2 separate regions of the Homo sapiens genome follow, and region 1 is linked to region 2. Evidence: fine-mapped expression QTL. Tissue or cell type: unexposed skin. Region 2 holds a variant in brackets; the other region holds the start of a gene. All regions are shown on one strand. Distances are between the middles of the regions.

Evidence for each region. PIP is the estimated chance that this variant, and not a neighbour inherited with it, causes the effect. A credible set is the group of variants that fine-mapping cannot tell apart.
Region 1: it holds the start of PDCL3, and the variant in region 2 is the best candidate, but not a certain one, in a credible set for the expression of PDCL3 in unexposed skin (GTEx, PIP 0.50).

The regions. Positions count from the first base shown.
Region 1 is chr2:100,559,764-100,567,763 of GRCh38, reverse strand. PDCL3 (phosducin like 3) reads right to left here and starts at 4,771. Exons shown (of 6, transcript NM_024065.5): 1 at 4,691-4,771; 2 at 1,135-1,261. The coding sequence starts at 4,696. RefSeq lists a silencer at 4,445-4,784 and an enhancer at 5,230-6,026.
Region 2 is chr2:100,532,164-100,540,511 of GRCh38, reverse strand. No RefSeq gene overlaps it. Among named protein-coding and RNA genes, the nearest start is that of PDCL3, 27 kb to the left of the region's middle. RefSeq lists an enhancer at 2,128-2,679. The variant G/C (reference allele first, on the strand shown) is at 5,144.

The sequences.
Region 1 (8,000 bases), 27 kb before region 2:
GCCAAGGTCCTTACTAGAAGCTTCTGGGTCTGCTGAGGCTGCTCTGAACTCTCTCCCCCAGCGCCTCCAGCTCCTCAGGGATTCCCAGCCATGCCAGGGCCCATATTTCACTCGCTCACGTCACCCCCTTCAGGAATACCCAGATGTCTTCTTCACCTCCTTCAGGTCTCAACAACTCCCTCAGGTCTATTCAAATGTGTTCTTCAGCTCCTTCAGGTCTTTACCCAAATGCCAGCTTCACCTCCTTCAGGTCCATGCAAATGTCATCTCAGTGAGGCCCTCTCTGAGCCTGCTTCTCCTCCAACCCTTTCTAGTCCCTTTTACTGCCTTATTTTCTTTATTGTTTATTGTCTGTCTCCCCCACTTGAATGTTGGTTCTCTGAGGGCAGAGAATTGTCTCTGGCTTATGCATAGCTAAATCCCCAACCCCAGAAAAGCACCTGACAATGATAATCATGCAGTAAGCACTCGCTGGATACTTTCTAATAAATCCTTCTCTAAATTAGCTCTAATGTGTCAACAGAGGACAAAAGTACTAGTCCCTGGGACCAGTGCTTCTCAAACTATGACACGCATCAGAATCCTTTAAGGCACTTGTTTAAAATGCAGATTCCTGGGCCTCATTCCAGAGACTGCTTCAGTAAACACTAGGTGGGTGGGGTTACCAGCACTCCAAGGGACTCCAATTCAGACAGTACAACTGCCTTTGAGAAAACCCCCCTCAGACTCCCACACATTGCAAACATCTTATGCCTCCCCAAATGAAGCAATTTTTAGTTAATATCCTCAATGAAACCACAGAAAATAAAGTATATGCTCAGGAAAATACAAGTACTAAAAACCTTGAACAAATTTCCATGACATTATCAAAGGGAATCACAGACCAGAAAGCAGAAAGAAGTATTTTCTTCAGTGCTCATGTGACATGGACAAGGACTTGTGGGACATATCTGAAGTCCCCTAAGTCTATGGCTCAGGAAGGTGAAGGTGAGAGACGCCCTGTGTTTTGTCTGAGGTCCCACAGACACAGAGTGTCCATGCTGGCACTCCAACCTGTCTCCTGGCAGGGCAGTCAGAGGCTTAGGGAGCCATCTCCTAACCCAGACAGGTGCAGAGGAAAGCGAGTGAACTCACCCACTGACTGCTGGAGGATGCGCTGCTCCTCTTCTGCCTCCTCTTCCAATTCTTTCAGACTTTCCTTGGGGGGTAAGATACCCTTTTTGCGTAAGATGTCATTCCATTCAGTGTCTGCGTTGGGGTCCTAGAAGAGCGGGACCAAGGTTACCATGAGTGCTAAGTCTAGTATGTAGGGTGCCACGTTGGGCAAGGGGCCAAATGGGAAAAGTGACAGGAAGGGAGGAATGCACACCAGTCTGTGAACTATTTCTGAGAAAGTGTCAAAAGATCCATAGCCCCCGTTTTGTTTTTCCTGTCTACCCCTCCCTGAATGGAGGAGCTATTCTTGGGGTAAAAATTAGGATAGGGAGTGCAGATCAGTATCAATACGGATACCAAGGCTCTGACTTGGCATGTGTTCAATATTTTTAATAATGACTGAGAGTGCCGGGCACAGTGGCTCACGCCTGTAATCCCAGCACTTTGGGAGGCTGAGGCAGGCGGATCACGAGGTCAGGAGATAGAGACCATCCTGACTAACACGGTGAAACCCCGTCTCTACTGAAAATACAAAAAATTAGCCGAGCGTGGTGGCGGGCACCTGTAGTCCCAGCTACTTGGGAGGCTGAGGCAGGAGAATGGCATAAACCCGGGAGGCGGAGCTTGCAGTGAGCCGAGATCGTGCCACTGCACTCCAGCCTGGGCGACAGAGCAAGACACAGTCTCAAAATAATAATAATAATAATGACTGAGTGATTCATTCAACAGATAAAACTGAAGTATCTACCACATGTAAATTATTGTAGGCAATGGGGAAGAGTGGTGAATGCGAGAGTCACCTGTGTTACAGACAAGAGGAAGAGACAGGCAACAAACAAGTATATATACAAACTATACATAGAGAGATAAAATTGTGGCAAGTGCAATGACAAACAGGCTGCCATTTTAGAGAATTACCCAGGACCCACATTCCACAGAGTAGATAGGGATGTTCCCTACAGAGGAGGTGACATTCCGTCTGAGGGTGGAAAGCAATCTGTGATAGGAGTCTGGGGGCTTACAAATAATCTTCCAGGCTGGGCACGGTGGCTCACGCCTGTAATCCCAGCACTTTGGGAGGCAGAGGTGGGTGGATCACAAGGTCAGGAGATCGAGAGCATCCTGGCTAACATGATGAAACCCCGTCTTTACTAAAAACACAAAAAATTAGCCGGGCGTGGTGGCGGGCGCCTGTAGTCCCAGCTACTCGGGAGGCTGAGGCAGGAGAGTGGCAGGAACCCGGGAGGTGGAGCTTGCAGTGAGCCGAGATCGAGCCGCTGCACTCCAGCCTGGGCGACAGAGCTAGACTCTGTCTCAAAAAAAAAAAAAAAAATCTTCCAGGCTGGGTGGAGTGGCTCACGCCTGTAATTCCAGCTCTTTGGGAGGCCAAGGCAGGTGGAGCATCTGAGGTCAGGAGTTAAAAGACCAGACTGGCCAGTATAGTGAAACCCCATCTCCACTAAAAACACAAAAATTAGCCAGGTGCACGCCCGTAATCAAGAAAATAATCTTCCAGGCAGAGCGGCCTGCGGCATGCATACTGCCCAAGAGCAAAGAGACTGTGACATTTTGAGGATCTCAGGCTGCAGATGAGGCTTGGCTGACAGAATTCTCTAATGGCCAAACCTGAGAGGAAAAGCTGAGACGTCTCAGAGTAGCTCATAAAATACAGGGCACTCTAAGCCCTTTTTCTTGTACCTTGTCCCTGAATCCTCACAAGCCTAGGAGAGGCACGGCATTTAGAGGCACTGCCATGCTAGAACGGCTGGCCAAATCAGCCAGCATCAAAATCACAAAGGATCATTGTCACAAAGACTGATGTAAAAGTGGCTCTTAGATCTAGAACCCAGCTGCCCAAGCACCGGTTTGCATGGTGTGGCAAGAACACTGCTAATGGAGCTCAGGCTTGCTTTGGAATATGAAATCAGGAGCACTGTGAAAAGGGCACCGGGATAATCGGTCTCCAACCCCAACCCTGTGTAACAGTTCTGAGATACATCAAAAGAAAAATGAGGCCGGGCGCGGTGGCTCATGCCGATAATCCCAGCACTTTGGAAGGCCTAGGCGGGCAGATCACCAGGTCAGGAGATCGAGACAATTCTGGCTAACATGGTGAAACCTTGTCTCTACTAAAAATACAAAAAATTACCCGGGAGTGGTGACGGGCGCCTGTAGTCCCAGCTACTCAGGAGGCTGAGGCAGGAGAATGGCGTGAACTGGAGAGGCGGAGCTTGCAGTGAGCCGAGGTCGCGCCACTGCACTCCAGCCTGGGCGACAGAGCAAGACTCTGTCTCAAAAAGAAACAAACAAACAAACAAACAAAAAGAGCAGAATCCTTTCTACAGGGTGGTCAGGGAAGGCCTCAAGGGACCTGAAGGACAGGGAATGCAAAGGAGGCCAGGGCAGCCCTCAAGCTACCACTTCACCATTTAAGAGTGTCTAGGCCAGGTGCGGTGGCTCATCCTGTAATCCCAACACTTTGGGAGGCTGAGGCTGGGCAACATAGGGAGACCCCATCTGCACAAAAAATTAGCCCAGAGTGGTGGGTGCACGCCTGTGGTCCCAGCTACTCCGGAGGCTGACAAGGGAGGATGGCTTAGCCCCGGGAGGTCGAGGTTGCAGTGAGCTGTGACAGAGCCACTGCACTCCAGCCTGGGCAACAGAGCAAGACCCGGTCTCAAAAAAAAAAAAAACAGTGTCTGGCTCCTGGCAGACACGCCCTCCCCTCCAGCCCCTAATGCCTCCCTCCCCAGCAAAACCCGCACCCTCTCCTCTCCATCTGCCACTAAGCAGAGATTAGAATTTCTGACCACTGCGGGATCTTTGGACAGTGACAAAATTTAGTTGGCATAGGTTTTCACCCACAATAGTGCCCATTTCCATGGTGTTTTCATTCATTCTCCTTAGGCTTTAACCAAATTCCGCTAGTAAATTGCAGCTACAGAAAAATAATTTATTTTACCTATTTTAATAAAAAAAAAAAAAAGGACGAAACAGAGGGACCCTCGCGGGGAGCTCTGGAACCCGAGCGGTCAGATAGGGAACACGCCCCAAGCGGATCCCAGGGCTCGGGGGAAGAGGGTGTAACTAAGCCCTCACCTGGCTCTCAGTGGAGCCAGGAACACCGGCTGTGGCGCTGCTTTACGTGCGGAAGACCCCAGGCCGGACCCTCCGCTTCCTAACACCTCTGCCCAGGTGTGCCTTAGGGGAGTTCAGGAGAGGAGGTAACTTTTGTTAGGCGGGATCCGGCAAGACCTTCACAGGCCCGGGTGGGTAGAGACCGCGAGAAGACATAGTCCCGGAGGACGAGGTTTGGGGGACCCGGCACACCGAGGCGGGGACGCCCAGGCCGTGGGTCCTGGTGGGACCACGCCCGCCTCCCGCACTGCGCCTGCGCAGGGCCTGGACGCGCCGGGCCTCCCTCGTGCCTGCGGCGCCGGAGCTTCCCCCAGGGCGGGCGTCCACTGCCCGCCCGGGCCTAACGAGACAAAGGAACGGGCCGCAGCCCCCAGACCCGAGACCCGTCCTAGCTCACCTGCATCTTGTTTCCAGTTCAGTTGCTCAAACCAGCTGTGCCGCAGCGCCCCCGCCCCTCAGCTCTCTTTTGTGCACGCGCACAGCGCCGCCACGCCTCTTCCCCCAGCCCAGCCTTCGCCCCGCCCAGGGACGAGCGGCGGGGAGTAAGGGCGGAAGCAACAGCCTTGAGTCTGCGCCTGCTCTTCAAGGAACTGGCACAGAAGCGTTCGCATGCGCCAGATAGGATCTGCCTACTGTCCTGCTCGGAGTGCACTTGACCTGGTTCTAATTCTGGTGGCTGCCTTATTAGGGCTGGTCTTCAGCGGAGGAGGGGTGGGGCTGGGTGGAGGAGGAGCCCGGGGCCGTGTGCCTTTTCCAGCTGCCGGCCCAAACCTGTAAAGACGTCTCGCTCTGACTAGCCTAACAAGTCAGAAATAGAAAATTGCCTCTAGGCCGGGCGCGGTGGCACACGCCTGTGATCCCAGGCCGAGGCGGGCGGATCACTTGAGGTCAGGAGTTCGAGATCAGCCTGGCCAACATGGTGAAACCCCGTCTCTACTAAAAATACAAAAAAATTAGCCGGGCGTAGTGGTGGTTGCCTGTAATCCCAGCTACTCTGGAGGCTGAGGCAGAAGAATTGCTTGAACGGGGGAGGCGGAGCTTGCAGTGAGCTGAGATCTCTCCACTGCACTCCAGCCTGGGTTACAGAGCGAGACTCCGTCTTAAATAAATAAATAAATAAAAATGATGCAGGGTCTTCTGGAATTCACCCACGATCACTTCAGCCTTGGAAAAGGCAACTCATTAATAAGACATTGAGAGCCTGCTGTGTACCAGGCACCATTCTAGGCTCTGCAGATGCAGCAGTGAGCAAAACACTAAAACAAAGGTGAAAGTCATCTGCCGTGCCTGAGTATCAGGAGACCCATGTATGCAGGCACACAGGCACTGAGCAAAAAGCAGCAATCTGACTTGTAAAATGCAGGTATTGGGCTCCAGAGCTTCTGCCCAGGCACACTCCAAGTTTAAGAGAGCAATATTCCTACCTGGTATGGAAGGAAGCATCTTGCACACGTGGGCTAACTTGCTGCCTCCTGGCAACTAAGCGGACACAGAGAGTAGAGACCCACACACCTGTGAGATAGGCGCAGGGCTTCCAACCGTGGCTATGCATTAGAATCACCTGGAAGCCCTCAAAAACTAGGAATGTCCTGGGGCTCCATCCCCAGACAAATTAAATCCTTGGAAATGAGGCCTAGCACAGATACTTTCTTAAAGATCCTCAGGTGATGCTAAAGTGCACAGTCGTTGATATAGAGTGAATCAAATGATTGCTTGAGAGCAAGGAGTTTTTATTTAATTTATAAGGATCCTTAAGATTTTTCTCACTCATTTCAACTGAATTACAGGCCCTTTTAGGGATTTATTAATGTATCTGGCAGCACAATGTTTGTTAATGAATTTTCCTTGGGTCTTACCACCAAAATCAGGACTGGAACTAACTTTGAGTTTGATCCTGTGCTTCTTGCTCAGTCCTGCACAGCAACAGAGCAGGTGGTGTTTTGTCCTTTCCTCATCCCCAGCCTTTGCTGTTCCCTGAGGCCTGTTTTCCAGGACTCAGCTATTCTACAGTTGCTCTTCCCCACATGATCCGGTCAGAGGCATTCTAACCAAAGCCAATCCATCCTGAATAGGGGATGGGGAAAAGGAGGCTGAGACCTACTGGGTTGTATTCCCAGAAGGTTACGCATGCTTAGTCACAGAATATTTACCAAACAGACCTAAGACAACAGACCCAGGAAATGGCCTGGTGTCCTGAAAGCTTTCTTTTTTCTTTCTTTTTTTTGAGATGGAGTTTCACTCTTGTTGCCCAAGCTGGAGTGCAATGGCGTGATCTCGGCTCACTGCAATTTCCACCTCCTGGGTTCAAGCGATTCTCCTGCCTCAGCTTCCGAATAGCTGGGATTACAGGTGCGCGCCACCACGCCTGGCTAATTTTTTTTTTTTGTATTTGTAGTAGAGACGGGGTTTCACTGTGTTAGCCAGGCTGGTCTCGAACTCCTGACCTCAGGTGATCCACCTGCCTTGGCCTCCCAAAGTGCTGGGATTAAAGGTGTGAGCCACCGCACCTGGCCTTGTTTTGTTTTTTTGAGAGTCTCTCTTTGTTCCCCACCCTGGAGTGCAATGGCAAGATCTCAGCTCACTGCAGCCTCCCCCTCCTGGGTTCAAGTGATTCTCCTGCCTCAGCCTCCCAAGTACGTGGGATTACAGGCATGCACCACCACGCCGGGCTAAGTTTTGTATTTTTAGTAGAGACAGGGTTTCGCCATTTTGGTCAGGCTGGTCTCGAACTCCTGAGCTCCTCATCCCAAAGTGCTGGGATTACAGGCGTGAGCCAGAGTGCTGGGATTACAGGTGTGAGCTACCACGCCCAGCCAAGAACAAAAGCATTCTTAAAGTTTTGTTTTAACAATAATATAGATTATTGGGAAAGACAGTAGTTATGAAATCTGGCCCAATAGTCCCACAGACAGTTGTTTTTGGATAAACATAGACATTGACCCTTCTGCTGTTAAAGCTTGAAACTTGTATCTGTTTAATCTGAGTTTCTTCCTTAGGAAAGGACCTTCAGGCCTCTCAGAAAAAGTATCAAAGAACTGAAACTCAACAGATGACCTCACCAGATGCATCCTTGCCCTTCCCTCTTCTTGTTTTCTTACACCATGTTACATTTCTTCCCTGCTATATAAACCCCTAGTTTTAGTCAGTCGGGGAGATGGATTTGAGACTGATCTCCTGTCTCGTCTCCTTGTCTCCTCGGCTGCAGCACCCAATTAAAGGCTTCTTCCTTGGGAATACTTGTCATCCCAGTGATTGGCTTTCTTTTTTTTTTTTTTTTTTTTTTTTTCCGAGACAGAGTCTCGCTCTGTCACCCAGGCTGGAGTGCAGTGGCGCAGTCTCGGCTCACTGCAAGCTCCGCCTCCCGGGTTCAAATGATTCTCCTGCCTCAGCCTCCCGAGTAGCTGGGACTACAGGCGCCTGCCACCACGCCCGGCTAATTTTTTGTATTTTTAGTAGAGGCAGGGTTTCACTGTGTTAGCCAGGATGGTCTTGATTTCCTGACCTCGTGATCTGCCAGCCTCAGCCTCCCAAAGTGCTGGGATTACAGGCGTGAGCCACCACGCCCAGCCCCATCCCTCTTGCTTTTGTCAAAATTATTCTTTTGTTATTCTTTCCACCTGTGCTCCAGATCCTCTCACCTCCCTCAGGGACTTCTTTCATCTTTCCATCCTTCTTGGCTGTGGAGAAAATAATTACAGCTTATGAGA
Region 2 (8,348 bases):
AGTGCTGGGATTACAGGCACGAGCCACCGCGCCTGGCCTTGCAACTCCTTATCTTGATGCAGACAATTCTTTCTGTTGATTCCAGGTCTTTAGACAATAACTTAACTCTTTCAACCAATTGTCAATCAGAAAATCTTTAAATCCACCTATGCCCCTCCCCTCCCCCTACCCACTTAGACTTTGTCCTGCCTTTCTGGATGGAACCAATGCAATGTATACCCCATACGTATTGATTAGTGTCTTATTGTCTCCATAGAATGCATAAAAACCAAGCTGTAATCCAATCACCTTGGGCACAAGTTCTCTCCAGACTCTGCCTTGGGCTTTGGTCACTCATATTTGGCTCCGAATACACCTCCTTAAATATTTTACAGAGTCTGACTCTTTTCATTGACACCTGCAAGCCATCAAGGAAGTCAGGATTTAAGCATTAGCTGCCTCATCCTTCTTGCATGGTGCCCTGCAAATAAATATCTTCCTTTCTTCTGCTGCAAACCATTGTGCAGTTATCTGGTCTTACCGTGCCGGGCAAGTGGGCCCTAGTTAGGTTCTATATAACCCTGGTCCTATCCTTCTTTCAAAGCATCATAGCTGACTCAACACTAGATGGGTAAGAAAATGCTATATTTTGCTTCCCTGATTCTCAAAACTATAAAAAAGCTACAACTTTGTAAAGTTTGATAGAGTAGGCTGGGAAACACTGATGTCACGTTGCAGAAAAATCTAGGCTCTGAAATAACACCACATCCCACCCAACCCAACTCCACCCTGTTTTTCCTTATCTCTGATAGCTTAGCCATTATGTTAGCAAAAGCAAAAGGATTTTAAAAATGAATGCTCTTCCCAAGAGCTCTCAGCGTACCAGGGCTGATTTGCAGTTTCCTTTGGGCTAGCTTCACAAGCACTTGAGAAATGGCAACCATACTTAGAGAACTAGCTGTTTGGCTTTCAGTTATCAAGCAGTTGTGATAGAATACCTGGTTGCCAAACTGCTATATCTATCTGAAAATGTTTGTGAGAAGAAGAAAGCCTGAATCATGCTCTGCCACATCCAGCTAGAACCTGAATGCACGAGGATCTGAGCAAGCTCTTTCAAGCTGTGACCATCTGTAAGACTGGGTGATGCCAAACATTCATCCTAAGCTACTTCCCCAAACTATGGAGCCAAAACCCCACAACAATCTATTGTCTTGCTAAGATGTCCTCCAATAGGAGGTGGAAAACAGCCTGGCTTTACTTGGATCCTTTTCTATAAGGAGCTGAATCATCTTCAGAAATTTTAATATTAAAATGTTAATATTTAAATTATATATATATATATATGTATGGTTTTTGCGACGGAGTCTATATTATTACTACAAGCACGCGCCACCATGCCCGGCTAATTTTTGTATTTATAGTAGAGACGAGGTTTCACAATGTTGGCCAGGCTGGTCTCCAACTCTTGACTTTGTGATCTGCCTGCCTCAGCCTCCCAAAGTGCTGGAATTACAGGCATGAGCCACCACTCCAGCCTTAATAATATTAAAAGTCAGCCCTGGTACACTGAGAGCTCTTGGGAGGCACATTCAATTTTAAAATCCTCTTGCTTTTTGCTAACATAATCACTCAGCTATCAGAGATAAGGGAAAACAGGGTGGGGTTGGGTTGGGTGGGACGTGGTGTTATTTCAGAGCCTAGATTTTTCTGCAACGTGACATCAGTGTTTCCCAGCCTACTCTATGAAACTTTTCAAAGTTGTATCTTTTTTATAGTTTTGAGAATCAGGGAAGCAAAATATAGCATTTCTTACCCATCTAGTGTTGAGTCAGCTATGATGTTTTGAAAGAAGGACAGGACCAGTGTTATGAAATAATTGAAGCTTATATCATGTGACAACAATTATCGTAATGTTGTGTGAGTTATTAAGAAATTATTTTAGGCAGATAGAGAAGAAAAGGGGTCCTTGGAAAGTTGTTTCTTTTAAAGCAGCTCCATAAACTTTTTTTTTTTTGGAGACAGAGTCCTGCTCTGTGGCCCAGGTTGGAGTACAATGGTTCGATCTTGGCTCACTGCAACCGACACCTCCCGGCTTCAAGCGATTCTCCTGCCTCAGCCTCCCGAGTAGCTGGGATTACAGGCAACCGCCACCATGCCTGGCTAATTTTTTGTATTTTTAGTGGAGACGGGGTTTCACCATGTTGGCCAGGCTGGTCGGAACTCCTGACCAGAGGTGATCCAGCCCCCTCAGCCTCCTAAAGTGCTGGGATTACAGGCGTGAGCCACCACCCCTGGCTGAAACGTTTCTTGTCTAGCAGGAAAGCCCCAGCTCTTAGAGCCAAGTGGCAACCTTTGATATGCAAATGCAAGCCATTAGAAACTGAGTCCAGCCAAACAAGGCGATTTCCGCCCTCTTCTCCTTGCCCTTGCCCTGACCTGTGCCTGACAATATGGCCGCCCTCACATATCCCCACGTGGGTACAACATCCTGACGCCTTGTATATTAAAAGGCTAGGGTCGGAGGGCCAGTTTTTTTGCTGGCTAGGTGAATGACATCCCTGGTCAAACCAATCCCCTGAGCCCTATGCAAATCAGACACCACCTCCTCCAGCCTACTCATATAAGCAGCCACTTTTCTGTGGCACATGGGGTCTCCTCTCTTGGATTTGGAGTCCCCTCTGACTGTCACTGAATGGGGGAGCTTCTTCCTTCTTTCTTGCCTATTAAACTTTCCACTCCTTAAAACCACTCCATGTGTGTCCATGTCGTTTTACCCAATTCGTGGGAGACAAGAGCCCTGGTGGTGTTCCTCCACTCATCGGAGCTGTATCAGTCAGTGAAGATTGTATCTTTATTTTTATTTTATTTTATTTTTGAGACGGAGTCTAGCTCAGTCTCCCAGGCTGGAATGCAGTGGCCTGATCTCGTCTCACTGCAACCTCCACCTCCTGGGTTCAAGCAGTTCTCCTGCCTCAGCCCCCTGAATAGCTGGGATTACAGGCACCCACCACCATGCCCAGCTACTTTTTGTATTTTCAGTAGAGATGGGGTTTCACCATGTTGGCCAGGCTGGTCTCAAACTCCTGACCTCACGGTCTGCCCGCCTCGGCCTCCCAAAGCACTAGGATTATAGGCGTGAGCCACTGCGCTCGGCAAGATTGTATCTTTAAAGAGGTTTTGGATATCAGTGTTATTAAAGGAAGAAAATATTTATCTAAAATCTCCCTTTTTAAATTTTTTGAGAGAGACTCACTCTGTTGCCCAGGCTGGAGTGCAGTGGCGCAATCTCGGCTCACTGCAGCCTCTGCCTCCCAGGTTCAAGCGATTCTCCTGCCTCAGCCCCCTGAGTAGCTGAGATTACAGGCATGTGCCACCACACTTGGCTAATTTTAAGTTTTTTTGTTTGTTTGTTTGTTTCTTTGAGATGGAGTCTCACTCTGTCGCCTAGGCTGGAGTGTAGTGGTGTGATCTCCACTCACTGCAGCCTCTGCCACCTGGGTTCAAGCAATTCCCCTGCCTCAGCCTCCCGAGTAGCTGGGATTACCGGTACCTGCCACCACACCCTGCTAATTATTGTATTTTTAGTAGAGACGGGGTTTCACCATCTTGGCCAGGCTGGTCTTGAACTCTTGACCTCGTGATCCACCCGCCTCCCAAAGTGCTGGGATTGCAGGCGTGAGCCACCACACCCGGCTATTTTATAGTTAATAATTTAATTAGTTGAAATTCTTAGAGGTCTAATCTTGCTATTTGCTATGTAAGGCTATGGGGACACCCTTCTCTTTGAATAGAATTCTCTAAATCTGGAGACTGTGATTTAGATAAGTAGCATATATTAGAGAAAACGTTTTTAAATAGTTAATGCGATCCATCAAAGGGAGATTTTAGGCTGGATGCGGTGGTTCGCACCTTTGATCTCAGCACTTTGAGGGGCCGAGACAAGGAGGAAGAGGTGGTTAACTATTAAAGTGTTTTGAATGCTACATGTATTGAATGTTTGAGATGAACACAGCCTAGCTATTTCCCCTTGTGCCAACCACCTCAGACAAGGCTTTTAATCAATGGAAATACATACTTAGTGCAAACATTTTCAATAAACTACATCCATTGCTTTGCTTTATATTTATATGTTGCCAGGAAAATTACTTAAGCATCTTTGTTCATCTGTTCTAGCATATGTAAAGATTCAAATAAGAAATGTGGGGGCACATGTTCTCAGGATTTCCTGAGGCTGTGTCATGGGCCATTGTCACATTTGGCTCAGAATAAATCTATCCAAATATTTTACAGAGTTTGACTCTTTTTGTCAACAAGATCTGATGCTATCCCTAGGTAGAGAGTGTGGGGACTGAATTGAAGGCACATAGCTGCTGTCTGCTACTTGGTGGTTGGGAAAAACACTGGAAACCAAAAATAAAATTCTAAGTCCCCCAACCGACTGAATGGACTGCTCCTTTTGGCCAAGGGCACTCCAGAGTTCATCTGAAATTCTAGCTCAGGCCATAATAAGAAAGGGGGAGGATGGGGAATGCCTCATTACTCACCTCCCTTTGGAATTCAGGTACAGCTGACCAGCATTCACAGTAAAACAGAAGTCTTAGGACTGACCAAGCAATACGATATCAGTATGACCCATAGCAGGTCCTTAAAAAAAAATGTGTTCAGCAACCTTCATGAAGGAATAAAACTCCACTTGAACTAATCACATCGAAATTCAAAGCTTTTTGCAATATTCTTTTTTTTTTTTTTTTTTGAGACGGAATCTCGCTCTGTCGCCCAGGCTGGACTGCAGTGGTGCTATCTCAGCTCACTGCAAGCTCTGCCTCCCGGGTTCACACCATTCTCTTGCCTCAGCCTCCCAAGTAGCTGGGACTACAGGCGCCCGCCACCACGCCCGGCTAATTGTTTTGTATTTAGTAGAAACGGAGTTTCACTGTGTTAGCCAGGGTGGTCTCGAACTCCTGACCTTGTGATCTGCCCGCCTCAGCCTCCCAAAGTGCTGGGATTACAGGCATGAGCCACCACGCCTGGTCTGCTTTTTGTAATATTCTTTTTTTTTTCTTTTTTTCTTTTTTTTTTGAAACGGAGCCTTATTCTGTCACCCAGGCTGGAGTGCAGTGGCATGATATTGGCTCACCGCAACCTCCACCTCTCGGGTTCAAGT[G/C]ATTCTCCTTCCTCAGCCTCCTGAGTAGCTGGGATTACAGGCGCCTGCCACCACACCCAGCTAATTTTTGTATATATTTAGTAGAGATGGGGTTTCACCATTTGGGCCAGGCTTGTCTTGAACTCCTGATCTTGTGATCCACCCGCCTCGGCCTCCCAAAGTGCTGGGATTGCAGGCGTGAGCCACCGCGCCCGGCCTGCAATATCCTTAAATCTTATTTCTGTACTACTCAAAACAACAGTTTGTTTTTCTCCTAAGGGATTAAGATAAAAATAATCAAGAGCCAGGCAAGGTGACTCATGCCTGTAATCCCAGCACTTTGGGAGGCTGAGGCCGGTGGATCACTTGAGCTCAGGAGTTCGAGACCAGCCTGGGCAACACAGTGAAACCCCATCTCTACTATAAAAAATACAAAAATCAGCCAGATGTAGTGGTGTGCCCCTGTAATCCCATCTACTCGGGAGGCTGAGGTGAGAGAATCATCTGAGCCTGGCAAGTCAAGGTTTCAGTGAGCTATGATGGCACCATTGTATTCCAGCCTAGGTGACAGAGTGAGACCCTGTCTCAAAAAAAAAAAAAAAAAAGATAAACAAAATCACTCATTTTCAAAACAAGGGTTTGTTGCTTCTGACATCTCTTTAAGTTAGTAAAATTGAGAGAGTCTGAAAGGGGGTGACCCATTTCCCTGTCCTAACGAGCTGGGCCAAATAGCCAAAGGCTTGATTGGAGGCACTGCAGGGCCAAACATCGTGACTTGTTGCCTCAAGTCCTCTCCATGGTCTGTGGGACAGATGGCAGCAGTGCTCTATGGAGTGGCTGGGTCTGAGTCAAGGTCAATGGCACCAACTCGAAGCACTTGCGAACTGAGGGGAGCTGGTATTTGGGAAGGGTCCAGGGGTCTGAAGGAGGCAAGTGGAGAAATGAACTTTCTAAGCCAATGCACCAATGACTGCAGCAGCTTTTCCTGTGGTGTCCCTGGCCAATGACATTGGAACACCCAGTGACATGGAGCAGGGTGGCCAAAAGCACTACCAAAATCACTGAGACTATTCTCCCTCAATTTCTTAGATCTTGTGTAGGAAATAAAATCTAGAAATTTAGGAGAAAAGTAGCAAGCATTAGAGCTGTCTTTCATCTTTGCATAATAACCCACCTAATCAATAGGAAGCTAGTTGAGTAAAATATTTTTATATTCATTCACTTAGGGACCTAATGAACACTTATTGAGCTCAACATTTATTGAGCTCCTACCATGTTCTATACCCAGTGGTAGATGCTATGGATCCAAAGATAAATAAAACACAAAATTCCTACTTTCAAGGTACTCACTATTGAATAGGAAGATAAGTAAATGAATAAGTTTAATCAAATATTATGTAGGGTGTATCAGTTACCACTTGCTGTGTAACAAACACTTCAAAATTTGGTAGTTTAAAACAACCATTTTTATTTAACTCATGATTCTGAGGATTAGTTGTATAGTTCTGAGCCAGCTCAACTGATCTCTGCTGATTTCTCTTATGTATCTTATGGTCATTTGGCAGCTTGGCTGGTGGCTGGACTATTTCTTATGACCTCAGTCCCATATCTGGTGGTTGGTAGGCTCAACCAGTAAGATGGGAGTGGGTGACTGGGCCATGTGTCGCTCATCATCCAGCAGGCTAACCTGGATTTTTTCACATGGGAGTTGGAGGATTCTGAAAAGCAACAAGAGACTAAGCCCAGTGCTCATGCACTTTGAAAGCATCTTCTGTAACATATTTGATTTTTCACTGGCCAGAGCAAGTGACAGGAGCTGCCCAGAATCCACGGTGGAGAGGGAGATCTGCCTAGAAGAAAGAGAATCATTTTCTGGCCCTTTAGGCACTCCCCACCTGTGGAGTGTCATGGAAATTTGTAGGGGGATAGAAATGAAGAAACCTATCCTGTTGGGGCGGCAGGGGCAGGAGGCAGGAGGGATTTCATAGAAGAGGTGCTGCTATAGAAAGAGAGTGAAAGATCAGAGGTGCCAACCAGGCAGACACCAACAGTGCAGAGGGAGCGGGCACAGTGAGCAAAGGCACCAAGGCAGAAGGCTGTCATGTGCTTTTTAATCATATTCAGAAGTGCTAGGTGTGAGGGGAGCTTAGGGATGGCTGAAGAGGTAGGGCAGGAGATGGGGAACCTCCTATGCCTTGCAACTGGAGATATTGAGGGTGGGCTAGCAGAAGATGTGTATGAACCAAATCTGAGTTTTATTTATTTATTTACTTTTATTTTATTTATCTATTTTTTTGGAGACAGAGTTTCACTCTTGTTGCCCAGGCTTGAGTGCAATGGCGCCATCTCAGCTCACTGCAACCTCTGCCTCCTGGGTTGAAGCGATTCTCCTGCCTCAACCTCCCAGTAGCTGGTATTACAAGCATGCACCACCATGCCCAGATTTTTTTTTTTTTTTTTTTGTATTTTTAGTAGAGACAGGGTTTCACCATGTTGGTCAGGCTGGTCTCGAACTCCTGACCTCAAGTGATCCACCCACCTTGGCCTCCCAGTGTTGGATTACAGGCGTGAGCCACCGAACCCGGCCAATTTATTGATCTATTTTTAAGACAGGATCTTGCTCTGTCACCCAGGCTAGAGTAGAGTGGCGTGATCGTGGCTCACTGCGGCCTCAGTTTCCTCAGACTCAGGTGATCCTCCCAACTCAGCTTCTTGAGTAGCTGGAGCTACAGGTGTGTACCACCATGCCCAGATAATTTTTGTATTTTTTGTAGACAGGGGTCCCACTGTGTTGCCCAGGCTGGTCTTGAACTCCTGGGCTCAAGCTATCTGCCCACCTCAGCCTCCCAAAGTGCTAGGATTACAGGTGTAAACCACCATGCCCGGCCAAATCTGAGTTTTAAAAACGTTTCATCTCATCAAATGACTATAGACTTACAAATATAACAAACAAATAAAATTAATTTTCATCTTAAGATGAAAAGCTATGAGCAACTTGTGGAACTATATTTCTAAGAGGGGATGAATGGATTAATAGAGATTGCAAGATCAGTTTAGTTTATACCATTTTTTTATGTACCAAAATACTGGTACTTTATTATTTTATTTATATATTTTGAGATGGAGTCTTGCTCTGTTACCCAGGCTGGAGTGCAGTGGTGCAGTCTTGGCTCACTGCAACCTCTCCCTCCCGGGTTCAAGTGATTCTCCTGCCTCAGCCTCCCGA